4 linked regions of the Homo sapiens genome follow. The protein of the gene in region 4 interacts with the protein of the main gene of each other region in a pairwise test. Each region holds a gene or a part of one and is shown on either strand. Other genes may lie near its edges. The genes, in order: CFL2, DES, ZBTB8A and EHHADH.

Evidence for each region.
Region 1: the proteins of EHHADH (region 4) and CFL2 interact in binary tests that used the Homo sapiens proteins (3 or more experiments, as listed by UniProt).
Region 2: the proteins of EHHADH (region 4) and DES interact in binary tests that used the Homo sapiens proteins (3 or more experiments, as listed by UniProt).
Region 3: the proteins of EHHADH (region 4) and ZBTB8A interact in binary tests that used the Homo sapiens proteins (3 or more experiments, as listed by UniProt).

What each region holds. Positions count from the first base shown.
Region 1 is NC_000014.9:34,711,576-34,718,462, forward strand, and holds the start of CFL2 (cofilin-2), read right to left. Parts: upstream 3,019-6,887; 5' UTR 2,966-3,018; coding exon 2,963-2,965; exon of another isoform or gene 2,860-2,962; intron 2,221-2,859; exon of another isoform or gene 2,102-2,220; coding exon of another isoform or gene 2,099-2,101; intron 1,987-2,098; coding exon 1,679-1,986; intron 1,562-1,678; coding exon 1,485-1,561; intron 1,403-1,484; coding exon 1,290-1,402; 3' UTR 1-1,289. UniProt on the Homo sapiens protein: Controls reversibly actin polymerization and depolymerization in a pH-sensitive manner. Its F-actin depolymerization activity is regulated by association with CSPR3. It has the ability to bind G- and F-actin in a 1:1 ratio of cofilin to actin.
Region 2 is NC_000002.12:219,413,514-219,421,388, reverse strand, and holds the start of DES (desmin), read right to left. Parts: upstream 3,013-7,875; 5' UTR 2,927-3,012; coding exon 2,349-2,926; intron 1,295-2,348; coding exon 1,234-1,294; intron 1,139-1,233; coding exon 1,043-1,138; intron 895-1,042; coding exon 733-894; intron 562-732; coding exon 436-561; intron 50-435; coding exon 1-49. UniProt on the Homo sapiens protein: Muscle-specific type III intermediate filament essential for proper muscular structure and function.
Region 3 is NC_000001.11:32,542,423-32,549,447, reverse strand, and holds part of ZBTB8A (zinc finger and BTB domain-containing protein 8A), read right to left. Parts: intron 1-7,025. UniProt on the Homo sapiens protein: May be involved in transcriptional regulation.
Region 4 is NC_000003.12:185,230,039-185,237,063, forward strand, and holds part of EHHADH (peroxisomal bifunctional enzyme), read right to left. Parts: intron 5,425-7,025; coding exon 5,252-5,424; intron 1-5,251. UniProt on the Homo sapiens protein: Peroxisomal trifunctional enzyme possessing 2-enoyl-CoA hydratase, 3-hydroxyacyl-CoA dehydrogenase, and delta 3, delta 2-enoyl-CoA isomerase activities. Catalyzes two of the four reactions of the long chain fatty acids peroxisomal beta-oxidation pathway.

The sequences.
Region 1 (6,887 bases), on a different chromosome or scaffold from region 4:
TTTACAAATTATTTTCATTACGACCAAATAAGCAATAAGAGCTTCCTGCTTCTACTATACAACTACTTAGAAATGTAAATGTGAATAAAAAAATAACTATGCTAATTTATCCAGAGAACAAATCAGATATTGAAAAGTATTTATGCCAAAGTGCAAAAAATAATTTCTGATCTTCATATTAACACATAGGAAATAAATACACTAATGTTTATAAAAGTACCATTCTTTAACAATGGTATTTTATATTAGTTGGCCTTAAGATAGAATACTTTTTAAACCAAATAGATCCAACAAATCTGGAAAATATCACACATGAATGCTGTACAAAAAAAATTCTCAAATGACCAGTGCAGAGATTAGTAATAGCTGTTTTTACCCTAGAAGTTGTTTCACATAACATTTTGCAAAATTTCCAAGGAAAACAAGGCAACGTTCTGTAATATGCCACAATTTTTATTGCAACGTGGCCATTTTTGTGAGGGTGGGGAGTTTGATCTCAAAACAATGTTCCATTTAAGGCTCTTTTATACAGAAATTGCCATCATGACTGATATTCAAAATATCTTTAGTGTTGCAGGACTCACATGGTAAACATAAAACTCCTACACTTATTCAGTAGTGTACACTCAATGGAAAACAAAAAGGCATTAATAACAGCTATTTCTTTTAAGAAGATATGCAGGTAACAGGAATGAACACTGAGGTACTAGGATAAGTTGATGACACAGTTAACAAAACTTAATTGGCATTCCTTTTAGGATATTAAACTTATTACAAAAAGTGCTTTTAATGCATAGTGTTATATCCGTGCTGCCATATCACTAAAATAGGCTTGCCAAGGCAGGTGAGGTGTATGAATGCTCAAGCCTCACAGAACTGCAATCAAGTGCCAACTATAAATAATACTGAAAAAAGTTGACCATCTGACCAGTGGATAATACTTTCAAGGCATTCAATTAGCTTATCCTTTGCAGTATTCTAAGCTATTCACATTGACGATCACATACATTGTAGTGCTTGCTGCAAGGGAGGCATATAACCAGTTGTTTTGGCTAAAATATGACAGGAAGGCATTCCTTGGGTTCTATATAAAAGTAACAGTATTCAACAGTCTAATGGCAATCACTGATAGGCTGCTTAAATAAATGATATTTCCTTCATTCATTGTGTTGGAAGGGCCCAGTGGAAAGGGGGAAATACAACAAAAAACCAAAACCTAATACTATTCCAATGGACTGAGCTGGAGAAATGGAAGCTCCTTAAGATCCAGATGGCACTTGACTGTCATTTTATAATGGTTTTCCTTCAAGTGAAACTACTACATTGCCTCCCAATTTCTCTCCAAGTGTCGAACGGTCCTTAATATCATCCAAGCCATTTACTTGCCACTCATGTTTAATACCTAAAAAGAAAAAACATTATCCTATTACTTTATTATAATTAATAAAGAATAATTTCTCTGCCCCAAATATTCAAGTTTGTACCTGTAAATTTCTTTTTAATGGCATCTTTAGAGCTAGCATAAATCATCTTGCTTTTTAAAGGTGCACTTTCAGGAGCCCTACAGAAAAAAAAAAAATTATTGAATCCCATTTATAAGAAAAACAAAGGTAAGACTGACTATGATAATAATAATCCTTGCATTTTAAAAGTACTTTTTTCTTTTGTTTTTACACACCAGAATATAAATACTAGGTCTTCTTTCTTAGACTCTTTTGTTTCGTATGTGGCATCGTACAAAGCATATCGGCAATCATTCAGAGGTAGCAACTTCACAAAAGATGTGTAGGGGTCCTCTACAGTATCACCAATGTCACCCACCAAGATCTGCTTTGCTTCCTCTACAATTATTTGTCTTTTGTCATCGCTTAAACAGAAGAGAACTGCTTTCTTTCTCTTTTTGATCTCCTCTTGTGTAGAAGATTTCCTTACTTTCATATCATTAAAAACTTTGATGACTTCATCATTCACTGTAACTCCAGAAGCCTGAAAATAAACACAGAACAGTAATTCAGAACACGTATTTTGGTTTTAACCAAAATTACTGTTTGCCTAGAGAAGACTCACTTTAGTCTGGACATCAAAAATTGCACCGTACCATGTAAGTCGTCCAATCAGATTTGTCACATTTTAAGAATCAGTAGACGATACAGCGAAGGAGTCTAACTCATCCTGCCCATTCATCCTTCTTAAAGGGGTTTGGACGTGGAAGCGAAAGGGACAAATACAAGTTGTCCCATCCCTGAAATGTTTCCTATTTCACTGGGTGATGTCAGAGCTTCAGGAGTGGCAGCAAAAATACCTTCTGTATTGTGTCAACTCGGCTGGCCTTAAAAAAACACTTTTGGATTTCAGTTAATGCTTCTACTATTTTTTTCTTTAAAGTCATCCTAGCCACTGACGTTTCCTCATAAGGAAAGAGAATCAAGTGTAAACTCCAAACCGCCCACGGCCCACACACAGCTCACATGCAGACACTCCAAAACTAACTGATCGAGTGTAAAAGCTTTTACGGCGAGAAAGCATTTTAAAAAGTGTTTTCCCTCTTCCTTAATCTCCCCGTAAGGGTTTTATTACAGGCCGTCCAGACCCTGACCCACACAGCGTTCGCAGCACGTACCAATTTTAAAGCCTCGCGTGTTAAGTAAAATTAGGAAGCGAAGGGCAAAGGCGGCGCGAGCGGCTGCAGTCCGCAGACCCTCTCGCGCCCCCGCCCGCCCGGCCCCGACCCCCAACCTGCGCCGACGCCCGGGCCCTCCCCGCCCCCCAAAATCCAAAGAGCAGCAGGGCAGGGCCTGACGGCCGGAGGGCAGGCCGGTCGGCTGGAGAGCAGCGGAGCCGCAGAGCAGAAGCGCCCACCTTGGAGGCCAAAATCAGGTTAAAATGGCGGCCTCACTCCCGGGGCCGTGCGGGGGGCTTTTCTCGCCTCGCCGCGGCCTCCCGGCCAGCGCGCTCGTCTTACCATAGTGCCCTCGGCTGTGGCTGCGGCGGCAGCTCGGGCTTCGGCTCTGTGGCACTGGGAGGAGAAGGAGGGGCGGGCGAGCGGGTGGGCAGCGGAGAGTGCGGGGCACGCCGGGAGCTGCAGCCCGAGGGAGGTGGCGGGGCTCGGCGGGCCGCAGGCAGCGGGCGGGGCGGTCACGTGGGCACGCCTGGTCCCCAGCCGGCGCCACCCGCTCCCAGGCCGGCCCTTCTGTCTCGCGGCCCCGGCTCCCCGGCTGTCCGCGTCCTCGGCCTGACCTCAGAGCGCGAGCCCTGCAGGCCGGGGGGGGCGACGCGGTGGTAGCGGAGCCCGGGAGCCTGGCAGAGCCGCCTCCAGCCCCCGAGCATCACCCGTCAAGCCGGTGGGAGAGAGTGCTGGGCTCCCAGAGGGGCGTTTCCACCGCCTCCGTAGGGCCCTGCGCCAGGGGTGGGTGCGTGTGAGGGGAACTCCTGCGAAGGTGTCTTTCCTTATTTACCTGTGGTTTTCCCGAAAGAGGCTGGATTTCGACATTTTGAGTCTTTTTGGAAAACCCCCAGTTGTTTAGAGATAAATGAGAATAAATACTACACGAGATTGCTCCAGTTGATAGTACTTAGCAAAAACAAAATGATACGCAGTGTTGGTAAATCACTTTTCAAAACTCTGGTTGAAATAATAATTATGATTAAAAAATTACGTGGTAGCATTCCTTAGTAATATCCTTTTACATTTTAGACTTCATAGGAAATGGATTGTACTCTCTCTTAGAGATTTCATGAAGCTCCAGCTATGACAGCTGATATCAAATAAGCCGACGCAGCCTCTTCTAGCAAAGCCCATATAACTGCGCCAAGGCAGTTTCTCTTTTTTTAATCTTAACTCCTCCATACCTCAGGGTTCTTCATGTGTAAAACAAACTGTTATTAAATTATCGTTAAGGCCCTTTCCAGCTTTAGATTTCAGTTTCTGAGTATATCAATGTTCAGTAGGAAATGGTGTGTTTTTGGTGGTCTCAGGATTGAGGTTAGGCAGGAAAGTCATGAGATGGTGTTTGCCCTAGATTGCGTGATAAGTTCTTTCAGCCCAAATTTACTGTATTTTAAATGGAACATGCTAGGCATTGAAACAGACCTATTTTTCTGTCTATATCTTGGGTTTGTTTTCTTAATTGGAAGATAGACTTCGTTTAGAGACAAAAATTGAGAAGGGATTTCCCAATGTCTAAGCATGAATCCCAAGCAAGTGGATAATACTTTATATCTAGCTGGTACATTACAATTTATGGAACCTTTCACTTTATCTGTTGAACTTCCAAGAAGTCATGGAGAATGTCTCTCCAGAGCTCTGATCATCTGCTATGTGTAGGTATTAGCAAATTCCTGTTCGCTTCATCTTGCGGTTACCTTCCCTTCCCAACCTCAGAGATTTGCAGCAGCCCCAGCAGAGACCAGGTCTGATGACACTGGGGCCTAAAGTGGGTGTCAGAACCTTACCCACCAAAGCTGGGGATTCCAAAGATGCTAGTCACCCCCTAGCTCGGACTCCAACCCCTTTCCATGCCTCCCATTCTCTCTTACCCTCCCCAAACAGAGATGGTAATTCACATGTTCTAAGATTCTTTTCCTGAAGTTATTTTTGTCTTGCATATATTTTGTTACATTATAATAACTTGTTTATGTCTTCTGCCACCCTACTGCGCTGTAAGCTCCTTAAGGATCTGAGTCCTGGTTATCTTTGAATTTCTGGAACCTGACAGATAGTAGGTGCTTAATAGGTGCTGAAATAATACATTTAAGATGCTTTAGTGCTGTAAAGAGAATGAAAAGGAAGCTTCTGAAAATTGTGAAGCCTTTCTACATGCCCTTGTGAGCATGGCACTGAGAATGTCAGGGCCAGTAGCAGCTTCCTGCCTTCACCTCTGTGAGTTATAACCAGAACTTACCACCACTTGGTAAAGGGGCAGCATTGCCAATCATTGCTGCATGAATTTTGGTCACTGTGTAGTGGAGGGGGATCTGAGTGTCAGATACCACATGTATTAGCGTTCGACTGTTGCTATAACAAATTACCATAAAATTACTTGTTTAAAACAACACAAATTTATTATTTATGGTCTTACAGAGTCAGAGAAACAAGTCTCTCTCTCTATATATATATATTTAAGAGATAGTCTCTGGTTCTGTTGCCCACCCAGGTTGCTGGAGTGCAGGATGTGATCATAGCTCACTGCAGCCTCATACTCCTGGCCTCAAGTGAGCCTCCTGCCTCAGCCTCCCGAGTAGTTGGGATTACAGGCATGAACCACCACAACTAGCAGAAATAAGCCTGATGGGGCTAAAGTCAAGAGACTGTAGTGGGAGACTCCTTTGCCTTTTCCAACATCTAGAGGCTGCCCATCATTTTTTTTTTTTTTTTTTGAGATGGAGTCTCACTCTGTCACCCAGGCTGGAGTGCAGTGGTGCTATCTCGGCTCACTGCAAACTCCGCCTCCTGGGTTCACACCATTCTCCTGCCTTAGCCTCCTGAGTAGCTGGGACTACAGGCACCCGCCACCATGCCCGGCTAATTTTTTGTATTTTTAGTAGAGATGGGGTTTCACCGTGTTAGCGAGGATGGTCTTGATCTCCTGACCTTGTGATCCGCCCACCTTGGCCTCCCAAAGTGCTGGGATTACAGGTGCGAGCCACCACACTCGACCTGCCCATCATCTTTGGCCTGTGGCCCCAGGCAGCAGTCGCATCACTCTGACCTCTGCCTCAGTCATCACATTTCCTCTGACTCTCTCTCTCCTGCCTCCGTCTTCCACTTATAAGGACCATTATGGTTACTTTGGACCCCACTTGGTAGTTTAGGATAATTCCCCCTCTCAAGATCCTTAACTTAATCACATCTGCAAAGTCTGTTTTTTCGTACAAGTTAACATTCAAAGACTTTGGAGGTTAGGACAGGAACACCTTTGTGAGGAGGGGTTGCATTATTCTGCCTACCATACAACTGTTCTGAGCAATTTCAAGCTCAAGCAAACAATTAATAGGTGTGACAGAGGGACCCCGAACAATGTGGTACTAGATACTTTTGTGCTGTAAACATCTAAGCTATAATTATCCATTTACTAGACCACACATAGATGGCAGTGACAACTATTAGGAACTTAGTGAGAGTAACCTCTGAATGTAATCTCAGCTCAGACACTAGTAGCGGTGCAATTTCAGGCCATTGATTTAGCTGCCATAAGGCTCAGTTTCCAAATCATGTGTAAAATAGGGATTATATGACCTCTTCCCTCTCAGGATTATGGGGAGGATCAAGAGAGATAATGTATGTAAAGCCCTTGTCCAGCACAGAAATAGGAACCCTGGAGCTGTTATTACCACCAGCAGAGTGAAGATGAAGGCACTGATTTTATCAACTCATAGGCAATAGCGTGAAGCCGTCCCAATCCTCATTGATTCTGAAGACTCAGCTAAAGTTTGTTTACTCAGGATTCTTTAAAAAATTGGAAAGGTGATCATCCCTTAATATATATAATCTATTCCCCCAAGAAACAATCTATTATGTATATATTTACTTACTCACTTACAGAGATGGGGGTCTTACTATGTTGCCCAGGCTGGTCTCAACTTCTGGGCTCAAGCAGTCCTCCCGCCTTGGCCTCCTAAAGTGCTGGAATTACAGGCATGAGCCACCACACCTGAGAAACAATGTGGATGGAGGTTCTGTGGCATGTAAAAGTTTGAAAGAACTATCTAAAACAGTGAATCTGGAAGATTATGCAGACAAACTGTGTGTAAGCCCTACTCCCTGTCAAGAGACATCACATTCTCAGCTCCCACAGCCACTTCCTGACAAAGACAAATGTAAGCATAAAGACACTACCACTTCAAAATGTACCTTTCTACCGACATGCCTTCCTAACTCTGACATATCC
Region 2 (7,875 bases), on a different chromosome or scaffold from region 4:
TGGCAAATCGGTCCTCCAATTCCCGCATCTGCCTCATCAGGGAATCGTTCTGCAGGAGAGGGGGAACCCAGGTCAAGGAAGGGAAGAGGACACTAGCAGCCCAAAGAAAGCTTTGGGGCTGGCAGGCAACTCCAGATGGTCAGGTCCAGGCCATGTTGAACCCTGAACTCAAATTAAGTCTATATGTGAACACTCAGAATAAAATAGATACAAAGGAACATTGCATTCAGCCTCACAGTCCCCACATAGGTAGATGCCCAGGAACCCCTGATTCCTTAGCATCCAACTGGAATCCACTTGTCTGGTTTTACCCCTATTGTAGATTTAAGTAGATGAAGGCCCAGAGAGGATCTATGATGGGCCCAAGGTCACAAAGTGAGGGTGTGAACTGCAGACAGGAAGGGGCAGGGCCTGGCCAGGTGGGCAGGGACTCACAGTGCCCTTCAGGGCGTCAATCTCGCAGGTGTAGGACTGGATCTGGTGTCGGTATTCCATCATCTCCTGCTTGGCCTGGCGCAGGGCGTCGTTGTTCTTGTTGGCTGCCTGGGTCAGGTCTGACACCTAAGGGCAGAGAAAGGGGCCCAAAAATGAGAAGGATGCAGGGCACGGGTAGGGATGAGCAAGGGAGCATGAAGCCTCTGGGCTCTCCTCCCATGGATGGTACCACAGGCAGCACATCCAAGCTGGGATTCAGGGGGACGGAGATGCCAGTCCCCGGGCGAGGCCACCCACCTTCGACTTGTACCACTCCTCAGCTTCAGAAATGTTCTTAGCCGCGATGGTCTCATACTGAGCCCGGATGTCCCTGAGGGCGGCAGTGAGGTCTGGCTTAGACATGTCCATCTCCACCTGGACCTGCTGTTCCTGAAGCTGAGCCTGCAACTCACGGATCTCCTGTAGGGCATGACTGGGCTTCAGTCCCCTCTCAGGGCCCACACAGCACCCTCACACCCCTATTCCCAGCCAGAGCCTCACCCCAACCCCACTTTCCGGCTGCTTTCCCCATGGCCCAGTGACCCCAGGAAGAGGGGCCAAGGTATACCTCTTCATGCACTTTCTTAAGGAACGCGATCTCCTCGTTGAGAGATTCAATTCTGCGCTCCAGGTCAATGCGAGCTAGAGTAGCTGCATCCACGTCCTGGGAGAGGCCAAGCGAGAAGGACATGGTCACCGCCACCCAGGTGGGGCAGAGCAAGGCCAGAGGCCATGCAAGGGGAAAAGAAGGGCACTCACCGCTCGGAAGGCAGCCAAATTGTTCTCTGCTTCTTCCTTCAACTGAATCTCCTCCTGCAGCCTGGGTGGGACAGACAGAAAGACAGACAGTTGCGGGTGATAAAGCTGGCAGTGGAAACGACTGGCCGGGGGCTGACCAGGGGGTGGGTCCAGGACAGAGCGGGAGGGCCTGGCTGCTGGGTAGAGGCAGGAGAGACAGGGAGTGGAGAGGCCCCACCCACCCAGGGAGGGCACAGGAAGTGGCCCAATCTCTGCCCAGGAGCCACACCCTTGAAGTCTATGTCCCCACCAGACTGTGTGACCTCCCTGGGGTTAGAAACTGTGTCTATTTTATCCACCTCTGTGTTTCTGGTTCCCAGCTCCAGCCTGGCCAATATAGCTGCTCAATTAATATTTATGACTTTGGTGGCAGGAGGGTGACTGTGCTCACTTGGCCTGTCAGAAGTGGGACCAACAAATATGCTACACTTGCTGCCCTTTTCGTTCTTGGAGCCTGGTGAAGTCTACAGTCAGGTCCTCCCAAGCTCTCTGAGAGCTGTGACCCCCACCTACTCCCTTTTTCTCCAGCCTGTCCATTCACCTTGTAAAAAGACACAGTCTCGGCAAGGCCCCAGGGCCAAGCTCCCCCCTCCCCCCACCTCCCCCAGGGCCTCATCACAGCTGAGCTGAGAGCTGTTGCTTGGACTCTGGGCCCTTGCCCTGCTTTCCCTGTCTCCTATCAGCCTCCCTTCTCCCTCTGGCTACACTGCCCTCTGGGCCTCCTGCAGCCCTTCCTCTGCCCATCAACTACCTGACCCCATAAATATCGCCCCAGCATCTTAAAATGCTTTTTAACGGGGCTGTCCACAGGGCACCGGGTCCCCTAAATTCTCCCATATCCACCCCCTGATCTATGTCCCCAAGAAAACTCCTGTGCAAGATGGGATCGCAGGGGGAGAGACCTGGAGGTCACGGCCCCTTGAAACACACAGGTGGAGGACCCTTTCTCCACATGGGGCAGGAGAGGGTCCCGGGCCCCGGGAGAAGGCAGGTGCTGACAGCGGGACCCCAGACCCCAGGCCTAGCCTCCTGTGCCCTGCCCGCAGAAAGAGGAGTCTGGGGTGCCGGGCCCTCACTTGGCCTTGAGCCGCTGCAGGTCGTCGAGCAGGTTGTCGCGCTCGACGTCGACGCGCGCGCGCTGGTTAGTGAGCACCTCCACCTGGCGCCGCAGCTCCCGCAGCTCCTCCTCGTAGAGCTCGGCCACTCGCGTCGGCTCGCGGCCCTTGAGCCGGTTCACTTCGGCGGCGAGCGCCGCGTTCTGCTGCTCCAGGAAGCGCACCTTCTCGATGTAGTTGGCGAAGCGGTCATTGAGCTCCTGCAGCTCCACCTTCTCGTTGGTGCGCGTGGTCAGAAACTCCTGGTTCACCGCGTCGGCCAGTGAGAAGTCCAGCAGCTCGCCTGCGCCGTAGGAGGAGGGCGTGCGGGTGGTCCCCAGCCGGCTGGCCCGCAGCGACCCCAGGCCCCCGGCCCCGCCCGACGTGCGCGACACCTGGTACACGCGGGACGTCACCGAGCTGGAGGAGCCCTTAGAGCCGAAACCCGCCCGCGGGAACACGGGCGAACTCAGCGGGGAGCCGAGTGGGAAGCCCGGGGCCCCGCCGAAGGTGCGGCGGTAGGAGGACACGCGCTGGCTGGACGAGTAGGCCTGGCTCATGGTGACGGCGCGGGCGAGGCTGGCGGGCGCACGGAGGAGGCGGCGGGCAGGCGGCCGGCCGGAGAGTGGATGCGGCGAGGGGAGACAGGGCCCCCAGCCGTCGGCACTATTTGTATCCCTCCTGACATCAGCCCCCGCCTCCCCTCCCCTGACAGCTGCAAGATCCCGCTGTCCTGCCAGGAAAGGGCGGCCCGTGGCCGTGGGGGCGGGGAGGCCAGCTCCCCCGCAAGAGGCCTGCGCCCCTGAGTCAGCCAGCGGGGGTCCTGTGACGGGCAAGCCTGCCAATCCTTCGCCAGGGCAGGCAGCAAGCATGTCTGCAGCCCCCAGGCGGGCCTCTTTCAGCCCTGGTTATCTCCTCGTCCTGGGGTGGGGGGGAGTGGGGTCAGGGGAGACAGCAGAAGAGAGGCTTCCCTTTAGTTTGAGGGTCCCCTTTTTGGTCAAGGAGAGACTTTGGGTCATTTCTTAAAGGGTCAAGGCCTGTTCCCAGGAAAGGCCCTAAACCACCTTGTTCCTAAATATTCTCTTGAAGTCGAAGAGGTTTGGGTCTCAGGCAAAGACCAGCCAGGCTTGAGGGTGGGGGTCTCTAGGCAGGAAGGGAGGGCAGGGAGACGCCTGGCAGGCGGAGGGATCCTGGCCAAAGCCTGCCTGCCATGTATGTCTATGGGCGAGCTAGCCCTGAGCCTCAGTTTCCCTCTGGACTAGTGCAGGCCCTCTTCCTCCCCGGTACTGTCGAGGGTGGGGCCTCAAGTTTATAAACAGTGGGCTGATTTCCAGAAAGGGTCTGATAAGCTTTCAGTTTCCAATTGCTATGTGCGCTCCCACCCCCGCACAGACTTTGTGTGGCTCCTGCCCCCTGGGTCCCCCGCCCCCTCCCTGATTCATCCCCCTACTCACACCACCCACGCCCACACACACCAGGGGTTTGTGTTTTGTCAGGAGCCGCATGTCAACCCAACCATCTCCCTGGCAGCAACAGCTGCCAACCCCAAATACCAGAGCGGGTATTTATAGAGGAGAACGCATGGCTGGGAAACAAGGCACAGGAGAGGAGCTGTGGGGGGCAGGGGGTACCTGAGGAGGCATGGGTGGGCGTCAGATAAGGAAGGCTAGGGTGACAGCCCCAATCACTTCCCACCCCCTATAATGCTCCAGCCCCCACCCCCACAAAAATGGAGCCCCACAGAGGGCCTGCCCAACCTCCAAAGCCCCCTCCTTAGCACACGGCACTTGCTAACCCCTAAGGACATCCACCATTCTCCATGGGTACTGGCCGTGCCTCTACACCTCCACTTGGCACTCCAGGTCCCTCTTGGACCTGACCCTTTTGGAATGCAAACCCTGAAAATAGAGTGCTCGATTAGGAGCCAGTCACTGGTCCTACCCTAGACCTGCCATCACCAGCTGGAGGGGTTACTAGTAGGTGTGTCCTTGTCTGAGCCCCAGCTCAGGCACGTCCTCTCTGAGCCCCAGCTTGTCAGATATAAAGTGAGGATGGTTAGCCTTGCCATGCTACCCTATAAAGGTTTAAAGAGGCCCAGGCCCTACTAATGTATGTAGCAACAATAATACCTTACATGTACTGACCACCTAGTGTGGGCCAAGCTGCTGAGCACTTCACACCCATGACCCCCAATTCTCCAACCCTAGGAGGTAGACACTAGCATCATTCCCATTTTATAGCTCAGGAAGCTGAGACAGTGAGACCTCACAGCCTGTGGCTTTGGCCTCAGGATGGGTGTGAATGTGCCGGGTAAATTGTAAAGGGGGCTTTGTTACTGCACTCTTTTCAAAGCCCTTTCCCATTAAGTGTCTAATTTTCATCCAAGAGACAAGCTTCTGAAATAGATGGGGGAGTTCCAGATATTCTTATCCAGCCCTCGAGTCAGTGCAAGCTGTTGTGTTCTGGTTATTTTTGTGTCTCATCTCCCAGACTAGACTGTATGCTCCTGGAGGATTTTGGAGACCATGTGGATCCTTAACACACTCAGGCAGCACCGTCTTTCTCATTGTCATTCAAAGTAGCCTGCAAGCTTTCTTTTGCAATTTCCTTATTTTGATGACATGCTGTGCCTCCTCCCCATCCCTCCACCCCTAAAGACCCTGATTCCAGCCAGTCTTATTACTGCATCTCCCTGACTTCAGTGACTGGGTCAAGGAATGGGCCTGGGAATGAGCAGGGCCAATCAGAGACCTTCCCTGGAATTTATAGACGGAACTGGGATTCTTCAACTGGAACCTGTGGAAGCCATGTTTCCTGCCCCCTGGGGGAGTAGGAAGAAAGAGAGGTCAATATGTAAGAAGCAGAGGAGGCTGGAGAGGAGGAGCAGGCCAGCCCCTTGGTTCCTGCAGTGCTTCCCTCAACTTTGTGAGTTGAGCTCCCACACTGTCCTTCCTGGCCTTGGGCCAACAAACTTTCCGTTTTTTTTTTTTTTTTTTTTTTTAATTTAAGGCACTTGGTATTGCTTTGATCACTTACAGCCCAAAGAACCAGATTAATCTTCCTGAAGGGGACTCTACACCTATTTCTATGATGCTACTGGGACAACATTTCTGGAGCTCTTCTCTGTGAATGATCTCCAGACCACATAAGGAAATTGGCCTTTGGACCAGCCCAAGTCCTCAGTTCCTTGGTGAAAAGAGGCAGAAGACAAATAAATCATGCCATCTATTCTCTAGTCAAAATCAACAACCACCAGACTTGGCCCCGAACCACTTGGGACTGTTTTCAAAATTCAGTTCCACCCCTGAGGATTTGCTACCATGGAGGGCTGCAAATCAACACCCCGAGGCTTGGAAGGCAGGTGAAAGAGGAGCACTCCAAAACATGCTGTGAGCTGGGCAGCACCGCTGGAGGGAGAGTTCAGCCTCCCGAGAGGACCACTCAGGATGGGACACACTAAAAATACCGACAATTTATTTGGATGGGTAGTGTATATGGTACAAAATTCAAGATGTGCAAAAAGGCATAAAATGAAAAGTAAGTCTCCTTCCCACTTTGACACCCAGCCACCCCAAACACTGCTTCAGAGACAACCAGGTTTTGGTTGTTATCGGTTCCTTTCAGAGATACTTCATGTACACACAACCACATTTTCTTATGTGGAGCCCCCACTTCTGAATCAATCTTTTTTCAATGACATACAGCTTAGAGATGGTTCCATTTTAGTACATTGACAGCTGAGTCACTTTTACATTGTGATAAAATATACATAAAATAAAATTCACCATTTGAGCCATTTTTTAAGTATACAGTTCAGTGGCGTCAAGTACATTCACATTGTTGTACAACTATCCCCACCATCCATCTGCAGAACTTTTTCATTGTCCCAAGCTGAAACTCCATATGTATTAAAAATAACCCTCCACCTTCCCCTCCTCCCAGCCCCTGGTAAACATCATTCTACTTTCCGTTTCTACGAATTTGACTCTAGGTACTTCATGCAAGTGGAATCATACCATATTTGTCCTTTTGTGACTGGCTTACTTCCCTTAGCATAACGTCTTCAAGGTTCATCCATGTTGTGACATGGGTCAGAATTTCCTTTCTTTTTAAGGCTAAATAATATTCCATTGTATGTATACACCACACTTTGTTTATCTGTTGATGAATATTTGGGTTGTTTCCAACTTTTGGTTATTGTGAATAATGTCGCTATGAACTTTGGTGTACAAATATCTGTTCAAATACTTATGTTCAGTTCTTTTCTGTAGATACTCAGAAGTGGAACTGCTATGTTATATGGTAATGCTATGTCTAAATTTTTGAGGAACTGCCATGCTGTTTTCCGCAGCAGCTGCACTGTTTTACATTGCTACCAGCAGTGAACATGGGTTCCAATTTCTCCACATCCTGGCTAACACTTGCTATTTTCTATTTGTTTATTTGTTTTATAATATTAATAGTAGCCTTCCTAATGGATGTGAGGTGGTACCTCATTGTGGTTTGTTTGTTTTGTTTTGTTTTTTAGAGACAGGGCCTCTGTCACGCAGGCTGGAGTGCAATGGCACGATCATCACTCACTGCAGCCTCAAATTCCTGGACTGAAGTGATCCTCCTGCCTCAGCCTCCCAAGTACCTAGGACTACAGGTGCAAGCCACCATACCTGGCTAGTTTTTTTACTTTTCCATAGAGATGAGGTCTCCAAACCTATGTTGCCCAGGCTGGTCTCAAATTCCTGGGGTCAAGTGATGTTTCCACCTCAGCCTCTCACAGTGCTGGGATTATAGTTGTAAGCCTCCACACCCAGCCTTATTTCATTTTTTAAAGATAGGGTCTCACTCTGTTGCCCAGGCTGGAGTGCAATGGCATGATCATACCTCACTGAGGACTTAAACTCCTGGTCTCAAGCGATCTTCCTGCCTCAGTCTCCTAAAGTGCTGGGATTATGGAAGCAAGCCACCACACCTGGCTGCTCATTGTGGTTTTGATTTGCGTTTCCCTAATGATCAGTGATGTTGAGCATCTTTTCATGCGCTTACTGGTAATCTGTATATCTTCTTTGGCAAAATGTCTTCAAATCCTTTGCCCATTTTTGAATTGGGTTGTTTGGGGATTTTTTGTTGTTGAGTTGCAGGAGTTCTTTATATACTCTGGATATTAATCCCTTATCAGATATATGATTTGCAAATATTTTCTCCCATTCTGTGGTTTGCCTTTTCACTCTGTTGATAATGTCCTTTGATGAACAAAAGTTTGTAATTGTGATCAAGTCCTATTTATCTATTTTTTATTTTATTGCCTATGCTTTTGGTGTCATATTCAATAAATCATCGCCAAATCCAATGTCATGAAGATTTTCCTCTTTGTTTTCTTCTAAGAATTTTATATTTTAGCTCTTATGTTTAGGTATCATGTCTGTTTGTTGTTGTTGTTGTTGTTGAAACAGGGTCTTGCTCTGTTACCCAGGCTGGATTACAGTGGTGCCATCATAGCTCACTGCAACCTCAA
Region 3 (7,025 bases), on a different chromosome or scaffold from region 4:
ATCTTGGCTCACCGCAACCTCTACCTCTTGGGTTCAAGCGATTCTCCTGCCTCAGCCCCCCAAGTAGCCGGGATTACAGGAACATCCCACCATGCGTGGCTAATTTTTATATTTTTAGTAGAGACAGGGTTTCACCATGTTGACCAGGCTGGTCTCGAACTACTGACCTCAGGTGATCCGCCCGCCTCGGCCTCCCAAAGTGCTGGGATTACAGGCATGAGCCACAGCACCCAGCGAGGTGTTTTGTTTTGTTTTGTTTTGAGACAGAGTCTGACTCTGCCCTCCAGGTTGCAGTGCAGTGACGTGATCTCGGCTCATGGCAACCTCTGCCTCCCGGGTTCAAGCGATTCTGTCTCTGCCTCTGGAGTAGCTAGGACTACAGGTGCGGGCCACCATACCCGGCTAATTTTTGTATTTTCAGTAGAGATGAAGTTTCACCATATTGGCTAGGCTGGTCTCAAACTCCTGACCTCATGATCGGCCTGCCTCAGCCTCCCAAAGTGCTGGGATTACAGGCATGAGCCACGGTGCCTGGCCCCGGCCAGGTATTTCTTTTTATCAATGAGAGCATGGACTAATACAGGGACAATAATAATACCTATAGCTTACAGAGCTGCGAGATGGAGAATATTAGAAGCTAATCCAAGAAACGTGCTTATAACAGTGCCTGGCTTATAACAAGCCCTTGATAAATGTCAGCTATTATTATTATTATTAATTATCTAAACATTTAAAAACACTGCTTTCAATGAGTACAAAATGTAAACATTTTAGAGTTTTATTGCCACACATTTTCTTGTCTTATACAAATGGGGATACAGAAAGGAGGCTCACGCCTGTAATCCTAGCACTTTGGGAAGCTGAGGCGGGTTTATCACCTGAGGTCAGGAGTTCAAGACCAGCCTGGCCAACATGGCAAAACCCCATCTCTACTAAAATACAAAAATTAGCCGGGCATGATGGCGGGTGCCTGTAATCCCAGCTACTTAGGAGGCTGAGACGGGAGAATCGCTTGAACCCTGGAGACGGTGGTTGCAGTGAGCCGAGATTGCACCACTCCACTCCAGCCTGGGCGGCTGAGTGAGACTCTGTCTCAAAACAAAAACAAAAACAAAAACAAAAAATGTGGATACAGAAAAAAAAAATGTTTTTTGACTGGTTTCATCATATTCATGTACCTAGAGAGAGTGAGAGCGATCATTTCAAAACTACATGTGTACCTGGGAATAGCAACCCTCGACTCCAACTAGTCAATTGCAGACCTCACCTTAAGGAAGGATTATTCTTTTTTTTTTTTTTTTTTTTTTTTTAATTTGAGACGGAGTCTAGCTCTGTCGCCCAAGCTGGAGTGCAGTGGTGCAATCTCGGCTCACTGCAACCTCTACCTCCCGGGTTCAAGTGATTCTACTGTCTCAGCCTCCTAAGTAGCTGGGATTACAGGTGCCGGCCACCATGCCCAGCTAATTCTTGCATTTTTAGTAGAGATGGGGGTTTCACTGTTTTGACCAGGCTGGTCTCGAACTCCTGACCTCATGATCCACCTGCCTCGGCCTCCCAAAGTGCTGGGATTACAAGTGTGAGCCACTGCGCCTGGTCTTTTTTTTTTTTTTTTTTTTTTTGCTTTGTTTGTTTTTTGTTTTAGACAGAATCTTTCTCTGTTGCTCAGGCTGGAGTGCAGTGGTGAGATCACAGCTCACTGCAGCCTTGACCTCCCCGGGCTCAGGTGATCCTCCCACCTCAGCCTTCTGAATACAAGTGTGTGCCAAATTATTCTTGAGAAACCATTTTTGCCTTTTTTTCTTTCTTTTTTTTTTTTTTTTTGAGATACAGACTTGCTCTGTCACTCAGGCTGGAGTGCAGTGGCCTGAGAATGAGATCTATAACCTAAAATAAGATTTGCAACCTAAAAGTTTATGTTTTAATGTTGCTGAGTACAGTGGCTCGAACCTGTAGTCCCAGCTACTCAGGAGGCTAAGGCAGGAGGGAAGATCCCTTGAGCCCAGGAGTTCGAGGCTGCAGTGAGCAATGCTCATGCCACTGCACTCTAGCCTGGGCAACAGGGCAAGACTCCATCTCTACTAAAAAAAAAAAAAAAGAAAGAAAAGAAAATTTGTTTATACTTAGAATACTACTCTAATGTATATATTTAAAAAGTCATGGATAAAATTATGGCTTAGTTTGGTTTGCTGAGGTATCTTCTGGTGATGAAAAATACATTGCAGATTTTGGAATAAAACTTCCCCCAGCCGGGCATGGTAGCTCATATCTATAATCCTAGCACTTTGGAAGGCCCAGGCAGGAGGATCACTTGAGCCCAGGAGTTCGAGACCAGCCTGGGCAACATGGCGAGACCTCATCTCTACAAATAATTAAAAAATTAGCCAGGTGTGTGGTAGTATATGCCTGTGGTCCCAGCTACTCAGTAGGCTGAGGTGGGAGGATCACTTGAGCCTGAGAGGCTGAGGCTGCAGTGAGCTGTGATTGTGCCACTGCACTCCAGCCTGGGCAACAGGGCAAGACCCTGTCTCAAAAACAAAAACAAAAAACTTCCCCCAGATATTCTGGAACTGTAAGAATTTTATGTTGGACCTAGTCCAACAGCGCCAGGGAGACAGAGGGAACTGAAGGTGATATAAGGCATCCGCTATGCCCTCCGTGTTTCACATGCTGCTGAGAGCCACAGGATTCAAAGCAATGGAGGTTTTCTGAAGGGTCAGAAAAACAGCCGAAAGAAAACAACTTCATCTTTTGATACAATCATTAATTTTACATTGTTCTGAACTCCACAGAAGTATATTTTCCTTTTTTAAATTCTTGAGACAAGGTCCCACCAGCCTGGAGTGCAGTGGTACGATCTTGGCTCACTGCAGCCTTGGCCTCCGGGGCTCAAGTGATCCTGCTTCAGTCTCCCACATAGGTGGGACTATAACAGTGTACCACCATGTCTGGCTCTTTCTATATTTTAACAGAAAAATCTTTTATTTATTTATTTATTTTTTTTTTTGAGACAGAGTCTCACTCTGTTACCCAGGCTGGAGTGCAGTGGCATGATCTTGGCTCACTGCAACCTGCCACTCCTGGGTTCAAGTGATTCTCATGCCTCAGCCTCCTGAGTAGCTGGGATTACAGGCACGCACCACCACACCTGGCTAATTATTATATTTTTAACAGAGACAGGGTTTCGCCATGTTGGCCAGGCTGGTCTCAAACTCCTGGCCTCAAGTGATCTGCCCGCCTTGGCCTCCCAAAGTGCTGGGATTACACGTGTGAGCCACTGTATGTGGCCCTTTTACTCTATTTTTATGAGAAGGGCAGATACTCAAATTGGCAGGTGAAACGCATTTTATTCAAGACATATTTATTGAGCAACTACTCTATACCAGACTATACCTGGTCCTGAGAATATAGAGGTGATGAAATGTCAAAGGTCAGTGCTCACTTTCAAGCAGCTCACTGTCTAGTAGGAGAGAGAGAGAGTCAGAGAAGAGACAGGAAGAGAAGAGACTTCTAGACAAAGTGACAATACAATGAAGAAAATACTCATAGTAGAAGGGAACTGTAAAACAAAGAAAGCAAATGATTGTACCTGGTAGTATTGAGAAACATTTCCAAAAGGCTCAACGTTTAGGTTGGGTCTTGAAGGATGAAAAGAAGTTTATACATGAGAAAGAGGGCAAAAGGCGTTCTAGCCAGAGAGAGCACCAAATGGGAAGGCAAAAACAGCGTATTAAACAGCATGGCCTCCTAGGGGATGGTAAGAAGTTTGCTATAGCTAGAGACTGTGGGCCTACAGAAGGATGGCAGAAGATGAAACTAGAAAAGTATGTAAGAGCTAGATCTTGGAAGCCCCTCCAGTTTTGGGGGTTCTGAGGCACTTCTGAAGGATTTTAAAAAGAAGAAACACAGGATTATAGGTCTACCAATCATTAGCTGTGTGACTTTGTCAAGTTACTTAACTCTAAGCATTCGTTTCCTTTTTGTAAAATGAGGTTATTGACTGTTTAGAGGCTCTAAGGAAGTCTGTTAAGAGGATTAAATAAGATAATCGCTAAAATAAATAAGATTAAATAAGACAAATAGAAATAAGCACATGAAGAGATGTTTAGCATCATTAATCATTAGAGAAATGCAAATCAAAATCACAATGAGATACTACCTCACACCCACTAGGATAGTTTGCTACAATAATTTTTTAAAATTTTTTTCTTCTTCTTTTTCTATATTTTCTTTTTTTTCCATGTTTTTCCAGAGATATAATAATTTTTTAAAAAACATGAAAATACTAAGTGTTGGCCAGAGTATAGATAAGTAAGAACCTTCACACACTGCTGGTGGAAATATAAAATGGTACAGCGACTTTGGAAAACAGTCTGGGAGTTCCTCAAATGATTAAACATGGAGTTATCATATGACCCAGCAATTTCACTCCTAGGTATATATTCAAGAGTAATGAACACATACGTCTACACAGAAACTGATACACGAATGTTTATAATAGCATTATTTGCAACAGCTAAGAGGTGGAAACAATCCAAATGTCCACTGACGGACAGGTGGGTAAACAAAATGTGGTATACCCATACAATGGAATGTAACTCGGCCATAAAAAGAATGAAGTACTGATATGGTCACGCGCCGCATAACATTTTGGTCAACAACTGACTACATATACGACGGTGGTCCCATAAGATTATAATACCATATTTTTATTGTACCTTTCCTGTGTTTATTTATTTGTTTATTTATTTTTGTAGACAAAGTCTTGCTCTATCCCCCAGGCTGGAGTGCAGTAGCACCATCTCAGGTCACTGCAACCTTCGCCTCCTGGGTTAAAGCAGTTCTCCTGCCTCAGCCTCCTGAGTAGCCGGGATTACAGGCACCCACCGCCATGCCTGGCTAATTTTTGTACTTTTAGTGGAGACGGGGTTTTGCCATGTTGGCCAGGCTTGTCTTGAACTCCTGACCTCGGTGATCCACCCACCTTGGGCTCCCAAAGTGCTGGGATTACAGGCGTGAGCCACTGTGCCCAGCTTTCCTGTGTTTAGATATGTTTAGATACACAAATACTTACCATTGTTTTACAAATGCCTATAGTATTATGCTATACAGGATTGTAGCCTAGGAGCCATAGGCTATACCATACAGCCTAGGCGTGTAGTAGGCTATATCAGCCAGGTTTGTGTAAGTACATTCTATGATGTTCACACAACAACAAAAATCACCTAACAACACATTTCTCAGAACATATCCCCATCATTAAGTGACATATGACTGTATATACTACAACATGGGTGAACCTTAAAAACCTCATGCTGGCTGGGAACGGTGGCGTGAGCCTGTAGTCCCAGCTACTTGGGAGACTGAGGCAGAGGACTGGTTGAGCCCAGGAGGTCAAGGATGTAGTGAGCCAGGATTACGCCACCACAATCCAGTATGGGTGACAGTGAGATCCTGTCTCTAAAAAACAAACAAGTCTGGGTGTGGTGGCTCATGCCTGTAATCCCAGCACCTTGGGAGGCCGAGGCGGGCGGATCATGAGGTCAGGAGACCGAGACCATCCTGGCGAACACGGTGAAACCCTGTCTCTACTAAAAATACAAAAAATTAGCCGGGCATGGTGGCAGGTGCCTGTAATCCCAGCTACTCGGGAGGCTGAGGCAGGAGAATGGCGTGAACCCAGGAGGCGGAGCTTGCAGTGAGCCGAGATCGCGCCATTGCACTCCAGCCTGGGTGACAGAACGAGACTTTGTCTAAAAAACAAAAAACCTGATGCTAAGTTACAGAAACTAGTCATAAAAAATACATATTTTATTTATGATTTTATTCACATGAAATGCCCAGAATGGGTAGATCCACATAGGAAGTAGATGAGGGGTTATCAGGAGCTAGGGAGACATGGGAATAGGAGTGACTGTTAACAGGCATGGGGTTTCTTTATGCAAATGATGAAAATGTTCTGGAGTTAAGAGGGTCATGATGGTTGCACAATTTTGTGACCATATCAAAAAACTGAATTGTACACTTTAAAATGGGTAAATTTTATGGCGTAAGAGTTATATCTCAGGCCAGGCGCAGTGGCTCACACCTGTAATCCCAGCACTTTGGGAAGCTGAGGCGGGTGGATCACCTGAGGTCAGGAGTTTGAGACCAGCCTGACCAACATGGTGAAACCCCGTCTCTACTAAAAATACAAAAAATTAGCCGGGCATGGTGGCAGGTGCCTGTAATCCCAGCTGCTTGAGAGGCTGAGGTAGGAGAATTGCTTGACCCTGGGAGGCGGAGGTTGCAGTGAGCCCAGATCACACCATTGCACTCCAGCCTGGGCAACAAGAGTGAAACTCCGTCTCAAAAAAAGTTATATCTAAAAAAAAAATAGGAATTGTCCTATACACTGGGGTCAGTTACAACCTGATATTCACATTGAAAGGATTTTAACATAACATGCATTCATAGTAGTACTCTTGAGTCATCAAAAAAGGTTTAAGTTATTTTCAGAATTATGTGATTAGGTCATGGAAATCGGTAATGCATTTCAGATTTTCTTCTTTCAGTAGAGTGACTTTATACGTTGAAACAGCAAGTTAGATCAATTTATATGGGACATCCAAAATCCAAATGGAAACATTTTAAATATCTGTAAGAGTTAAATATTATAATAGTCCCAAGAATATAACAGAATTCAAGATTTCCATCAAGTTCAATGATCTTTAAAAAGGTGGTTGGGAAAGACAATTACACATTTTAGGAACCATTAAGTTCGAAAGTCTTTGGAATAGAAGCCAATGACATGTATTTCTATGAGTAGACTGAAGATTTAAGTAGCGAGTGTAACTTGAACTAAGGTTGTCGTTGAGAAGATCAACTCTCTTTTTTTGAGACGGAGTCTTGCTCTGTCGCCCAGGCTAGAGTGCAGTGGCGCAATCTCGGTTTACTGCAACCTCTGCCTCCCAGGTTCAAGTGATTCTCCTGCTTCAGCCTCCCGAGTAGTTGTGATTACAGGTGCCTGCCACTGTGTGCTAATTTTT
Region 4 (7,025 bases):
GAGATACAAATGGCCAGTAAGCACTTGAAAAGATGCTCAACATCATTAGCCATCAGAGGAATACAAATCAAAACCACAAGGTAACACTTTATACCCACTAAGATGGCTATTTAAAAAACGACAGACAATAACAGGTGTTGGAGAGGATATGGAGAATACAGAATCCTCATACATTGCTAGTGGGAATATAAAACAGAGTAGACACTTTGGAAAACAATCTGGCAGCTTCTTAAATGTTAAACATAGAGTTACCATATGACCCATCAAATCCATTCCTGGGTATATACCCAAGAGAAATGAAAACATATGCCCACAAAAATCCTGTATACAGATTTTCATGGCACCATGGTTCATAAAAGCCAAAAAAGTAGAAGCAACCCAAATGTCCATCAATGATTAGTGGATAAATGAAAGGTAGTACATCCATACAATGGAATATTATTCAGCAAAATCAATAAAGAACTGATTCATGCTACAACGTGGATGAACATTGAAAACATGCTAAACAAAAAAAGCCAGTCACAGGAGACCACATATCATATGATTCTGTTTATATGAAATATCCAGAATAGGCAAAACATGCTAAACAAAAAAAGCCAGTCACAGGAGACCACATATCGTATGATTCTGTTTATATGAAATATCCAGAATAGGCAAAACATGATAAACAAAAAAAGCCAGTCACAGGAGACCACATATCATATGATTCTGTTTATATGAAATATCCAGAATAGGCAAAACATGATAAACAAAAAAAGCCAGTCACAGGAGACCACATATCATATGATTCTGTTTATATGAAATATCCAGAATAGGCAAAACATGATAAACAAAAAAAGCCAGTCACAGGAGACCACATATCGTATGATTCTGTTTATATGAAATATCCAGAATAGGCAAAACATGATAAACAAAAAAAGCCAGTCACAGGAGACCACATATCATATGATTCTGTTTATATGAAATATCCAGAATAGGCAAAACATGATAAACAAAAAAAGCCAGTCACAGGAGACCACATATCATATGATTCTGTTTATATGAAATATCCAGAATAGGCAAAACATGATAAACAAAAAAAGCCAGTCACAGGAGACCACATATCATATGATTCTGTTTATATGAAATATCCAGAATAGGCAAAACATGATAAACAAAAAAAGCCAGTCACAGGAGACCACATATCATATGATTCTGTTTATATGAAATATCCAGAATAGGCAAAACATGATAAACAAAAAAAGCCAGTCACAGGAGACCACATATCATATGATTCTGTTTATATGAAATATCCAGAATAGGCAAAACATGATAAACAAAAAAAGCCAGTCACAGGAGACCACATATCATATGATTCTGTTTATATGAAATATCCAGAATAGGCAAAACATGATAAACAAAAAAAGCCAGTCACAGGAGACCACATATCATATGATTCTGTTTATATGAAATATCCAGAATAGGCAAAACATGATAAACAAAAAAAGCCAGTCACAGGAGACCACATATCATATGATTCTGTTTATATGAAATATCCAGAATAGGCAAAACATGATAAACAAAAAAAGCCAGTCACAGGAGACCACATATCGTATGATTCTGTTTATATGAAATATCCAGAATAGGCAAAACATGCTAAACAAAAAAAGCCAGTCACAGGAGACCACATATTGTATGATTCTGTTTATATGAAATATCCAGAATAGGCAAATCTATAGAGACAGAAAGTAGATTAGTAGGTGCTTAGGATAGCAGAAGGTGATGGAGGATTACTGCTACAGGATACAAGGTTTCTTTTTGGGGTGATAAAATGTTCTAAAATTTACTGTGATAATGGTTGCACAACTCTGAGAATATACTCATATACCATTGAATTGCACACTTTAAATGAATGAATTGTATGGTATTTAAATTACATCTCCAAAAGGCTATTTTTTTTTTTTAAAGTCAGACAGTAATCTCAGTCCAGACAAGAAGGGGAGCTTGAGTCCTTTATTTTATTGCCTTTCTTGGCCCATTCCATTTAAAAGTGGCTGAGGATCTGTTAGCCATTTACAGGTATAAGGGTGAGAGGAGGGTACTTAAATGCGGACTGCCATTTACCCAGATCGTGATTCTAGCAGTTCCAAAATACCTCACATATGTGAGGCCTGTCTTACATGAGGTTTTCCTAACAGTCAATCACCATTCTTTCCATCACTGCCCATCTCTACCTCTTTACTTATTGCTAGTAACTCAGATCTGCACTCAGGGTACAGGTTGTGGTAAGAGGGACACAGAAAAGGAGCACTTAGGACATATATGTGTATTTATTTGTAAGCATTTATAAAAATTAAAACACCATTGGGAAATGGTTAAATAAATTCTGGTATAGCCATATGATTGAATATTATGCCGCCACTTATAATGATTTTTTTTCTTTTTTTTGAGACAGAGTTTAGCTCTTGTTGCCCAGGCTGGAGTGCAATGGTGCGATCTCGGCTCACTGCAACCTCCGTCTCCTGGGTTCAAGTGATTCTCCTGCCTCAGCCTCCCAAGTAGCTGGGATTACAGGCATGTGCTACCACGCCCAGCTAATTTTGTATTTTTAGTAGAGGCGGGATTTCTCCATGTTGGTCAGGCTGGTCTTGAACTCCTGACCTCAGGTGATCCGCCTGCCTTGGCCTCCCAAAGTGCTGGGATTACAGGCGTGAGCCACTGTTCTTGGCCTATAATGATATTTTTAAAGAATATTTACCAGAAGAGTAACATGATTTCTCCTCAGCCACAGAGGCCAGAAGGCATGAAATAACATACACAAAGTGCCAAAAGAAAACAACTGTCAATCAAGAATTCTATATCCAACAAAACTATCTTTTGAAAATGAAGGCAAAATTAACACATTTCCAGATAAAGAAAAACTGATTTTGTTGTTAGTATATTTGCCCTATAAGAAATACTTCAGGCTGTAATGAAAAGGCACTAGACAGTAACTTGAATTCACATGAAGAAATAAAGAACACTGATAAAGAGTAACTTCATGGGTAAATATAAAAGACAGTAATAATGTATTTTTCATTTGTAATTCCTCTTTTTCTTATCTGATTTAGGACCACTATGTAAAGCAACAATGATAAATCTATGTTAAGCAGTACATAATGTATGAAGATATAACTTGTGACAATAATAGCATAAAGGGGCAAGTAATGGAGGCTACAGAGGAGCAAATTTTTTGTATATTATTAAAATTCAGTCAGTATTAATCTGAACTACATTGTCATAAATTAAGATGTTAATTGTAATCACCAAGTTAACCACCATTAAGAAAATAACTAAAAATATATATAGTAAAAGAAACAGCAAGAAAGTTACAAGGGTATACTTTTACATTTAACACAAATGAAAGCAGTAATGGAGGAATTGAACAAAAAAACCAAAAAGCATAGAAAACAAATAGCAAAATGGCAGATGTTCTTCCTTATCAGTAATTACATTAAATATAAGTGTATTAAGTTCTCTAATTAAAAGACAGAGATTGGCAGAATAAAGAATATTTAATTATGGGTTAAATATTATAGTATAAAAATAGAGTATAAACTAAATACAAAAAAAGCCCAAATGTGGTTTTTTTTGTTGTTGTTTGTTTTGAGATGGAGACCCGCTCTGTCACCAGGCTGGAGTGCAGTGGCACGATCTCAGCTTACTGCAACCTCCACCTTCCAGGTTCAAGTGATTCTCCTGCCTCAGCCTCCCGAGTAGCTGGGATTACAGGCGCCTGCCAGCATGCCCAGCTAATTTTTGTATTTTTAGTAGAGACGGGGTTTCATCATGTTGGCCAGGATGGTCTCGATCTCCTGACTTTGTGATCTGCCTGCCTCGGCCTCCCAAAGTGCTGGGATTACAGGCATGAGCCACCATGCCCAGCCAATGTACTTTTTTTTAAAGGACATTTTTCAAAGGAAAAAGAATCTGTAAGAAAAAATTACATACAAAAAAAGACTAGAATGAAATAGAATGTTAATAGTGGTTATTTCTGAACTGTGAGTTTATGATGATTTTAGTTTACATCTGTATACTTTCTTATGTTCTCTAGTTTAGTAGAATGAATATTATTTTCATCATTAGAAAAATATATTAATTACAAAAATGCCACCATTATATATACTGTGATACACAGTGGTATCACAGACCTCATCTGACATGTCTAACAGCCTAAATTAAACCTATTTCCAGAAATTTCCCCATATTTACTAGTTTTGTGCTATTTTCCAATAGAAATTTGTCTTATTAGGTACTGATAATTATAAGGGACCATGAAACAGAAATCTTTGAGTTATCAAAGAAGTATTTAAATGTATACTTAGAAGTGACAGCCAACATATTTAATACTCATACTGCATGAGCACTGCATCAGTGAAACCTGATATGGGTCATAGTACTGGAGGTAGAGTCTCGGGGCTCTCTATTGACTCAGGAGTTCCCCTGTAGCTGATGGATCAGAGAGAGGCCCTAGGGCTAAGGTTAAGGGAAACAAGATCATAGAGAGGCCCTAGGGCTAAGGTTAAGGGAAACAAGGAGTTCCCCTGTAGCTGATGGATCAGAGAGAGGCCCTAGGGCTAAGGTTAAGGGAAACAAGATCATAGAGAGGCCCTAGGGCTAAGGTTAAGGGAAACAAGGAGTTCCCCTGTAGTTGATGGATCATAGAGAGGCCCTAGGGCTAAGGTTAAGGGAAACAAGGGAAACTAGGGCTCAGAGTAGCAGGTGTTTACTTACCAGAATGGAAGTGAAGTATTTGAACATTTTAACAATTAGTACCACTGTACTGGCACGTAACAGCTGAAGTCGTTAACCAGTAAGCTAACCATTCAAAATTATCACCTCTGGGCCGGGTGCAGTGGCTCATGCCTGTAATCCCAGCACTTTGGGAAGCCAAGGTGGGTGGTCACCTGAGGTCAGGAGTTTGAGACCAGCCTGGCCAACATGGTGAAACCCCGTCTCTACTAAAAATACAAAAATTTGCTGGGCATGGTAGCATGCCTGTAGTCCCAGCTTCTTGGGAGGCTGAGGAAGGAGAATTGCTTGAACTCGGGAGGTGGAGGTTGCAGTGAGCCGAGATCACACCACTGCACTCCAGCCTGGAAGACAGAGTGAGACTCCATCTCAAAAAAACAAATAAATAAAATAATCACCGCTGATACTTATGACTACATTTAGAGTTTGCCCTAAAGAAAAGCCCCACACACCAGCCACTATATAGAGCCTTGGTTGTTACCTCTGCGTGGGCAATCCTATAGTGACAGCCCAGGGCCAGCTCTAGTCCCCCTCCGAAAGCCATGCCTTGGATTGCTGCCACCACGGGCTTCTCATTTCTCTGTATTTCATCTACTACATGTCCCAGTGTAAGGCCAAATGTCCTAGGAGCACTGAAGCCACGAATATCAGCACCTAAGGGCACAAAGACAAGGAGAAAACAGAGTTGAGAAATACATGGGCATTGTTATATAACAGTAAGTTACCTGATACTCTTTAAAAAATTAATTTGTTTTATTTATTTCTTAATTTTTTTTAGAGTTCCTGATGACTAAAGTCTCAGACCTCTTTGGGCCCTTACACTTCATCCTTGGCTGAAAACAAGTATATTGGAGAATGTAGAATGCTATGAGAGAAAATCCTTGAATCTTTACCAGGAATTCTGTAATTTTCTAAAATCTATCTTTCCATATAATAAGTAGTAAGTCTATATTTAAAAAAATTAAAAATCTCAGAAAAGGGGAATAGGGACTCTCCTCCAAAGATCATTATTCTGAGATTGAGTCAGCCCCTCTCATTTTTGTATGTGTGATACTGTTAATCAAGTCTATTCACAGCAACTTAGCTCCATATCTTTGTTAAGGGCATGAGTCATCACAATATAAAATATCAGGGTAACATGTATACATATTTATGAGTTATATGTTAATCAAGCAGCTTAGAATTATGTTTTTGTAATAGATTTTTATCTTCAATAAAAATAATATTTATTGCTTTTCCTGATTATAAAAATAACATGTATTATGGAAAATTTGAAAACCACGCAAAATTAAAAAGAACATGAAGATCACCCTAAATATCACTATATAGCCATAATTTAATATTTTGAGGAGTTCTTAGTTTTTTTCCACATGTGTGAGCGAGCATTACAACCTGAGCTCTGCCTTCTGTCAGATCAGTAGCGGCATTAGATTCTCACAGGAGCGTGAACCCTATTGTGAACTGCACAAGTGAGGGATCTAGGTTGCGCTCTCCTTATGAGAATCTAATGCCTGATGATCTGAGGTGGAACAGTTTCATCCCAAAACAATCCCTGCCCCCCCACCCTCCCAGGCCTGCACCCCCACCCACTACCCCTGTCCATGGAAAAACTGTCTTCCATGAAACCAGTCCCTGGTACCAAAAAGGTTGAGGACAGCTGATTTAGAGCATACCATAAAATCATTTTTATATTTTCCTGTTTTCATATAACATTATACATAGTAAGCTTTTTCCTACAGCATTATCTATTCTTTGAAAACACTAAGCTTGGTACAAGTTTTAAAAATTAATTATTTTATATCTAGCCTATTCATCTTTTTTTCCCTTTTTGCTACCTGTTCCTCATCTAGCATCAATCCAGGAGTTAAGCTTTTTTCTCACCAATTCATTATATTTCACTCTCTAGTCCAGTGTTTTGTTTCGTGTTTTCAATTCCTTTTGGTTCTAGAGAAACAAGATCAATTTCAATCCAAGTCTCAAGCCTATCATTCCTGTAGCTTTAGATTGAGATAGTTTTTTAGATAATAACAGAAATGAACAATTATTGGATAAATGCATCAAGCACTGTGCTAAGCAGTTTCATATACTGTGTCATTTAATTTTCATAACACCTAAGTTAAGCAGCATAACAATTCCCATTTTACAGGTAAGGAAGTTAATGCTTTGAGACAAGTGACTACTTCAGACATATGACTAATAACTGGTAGAATAGGGATTTAAACTTAGGCAATTTGACTACAAACCCCACATTCTTA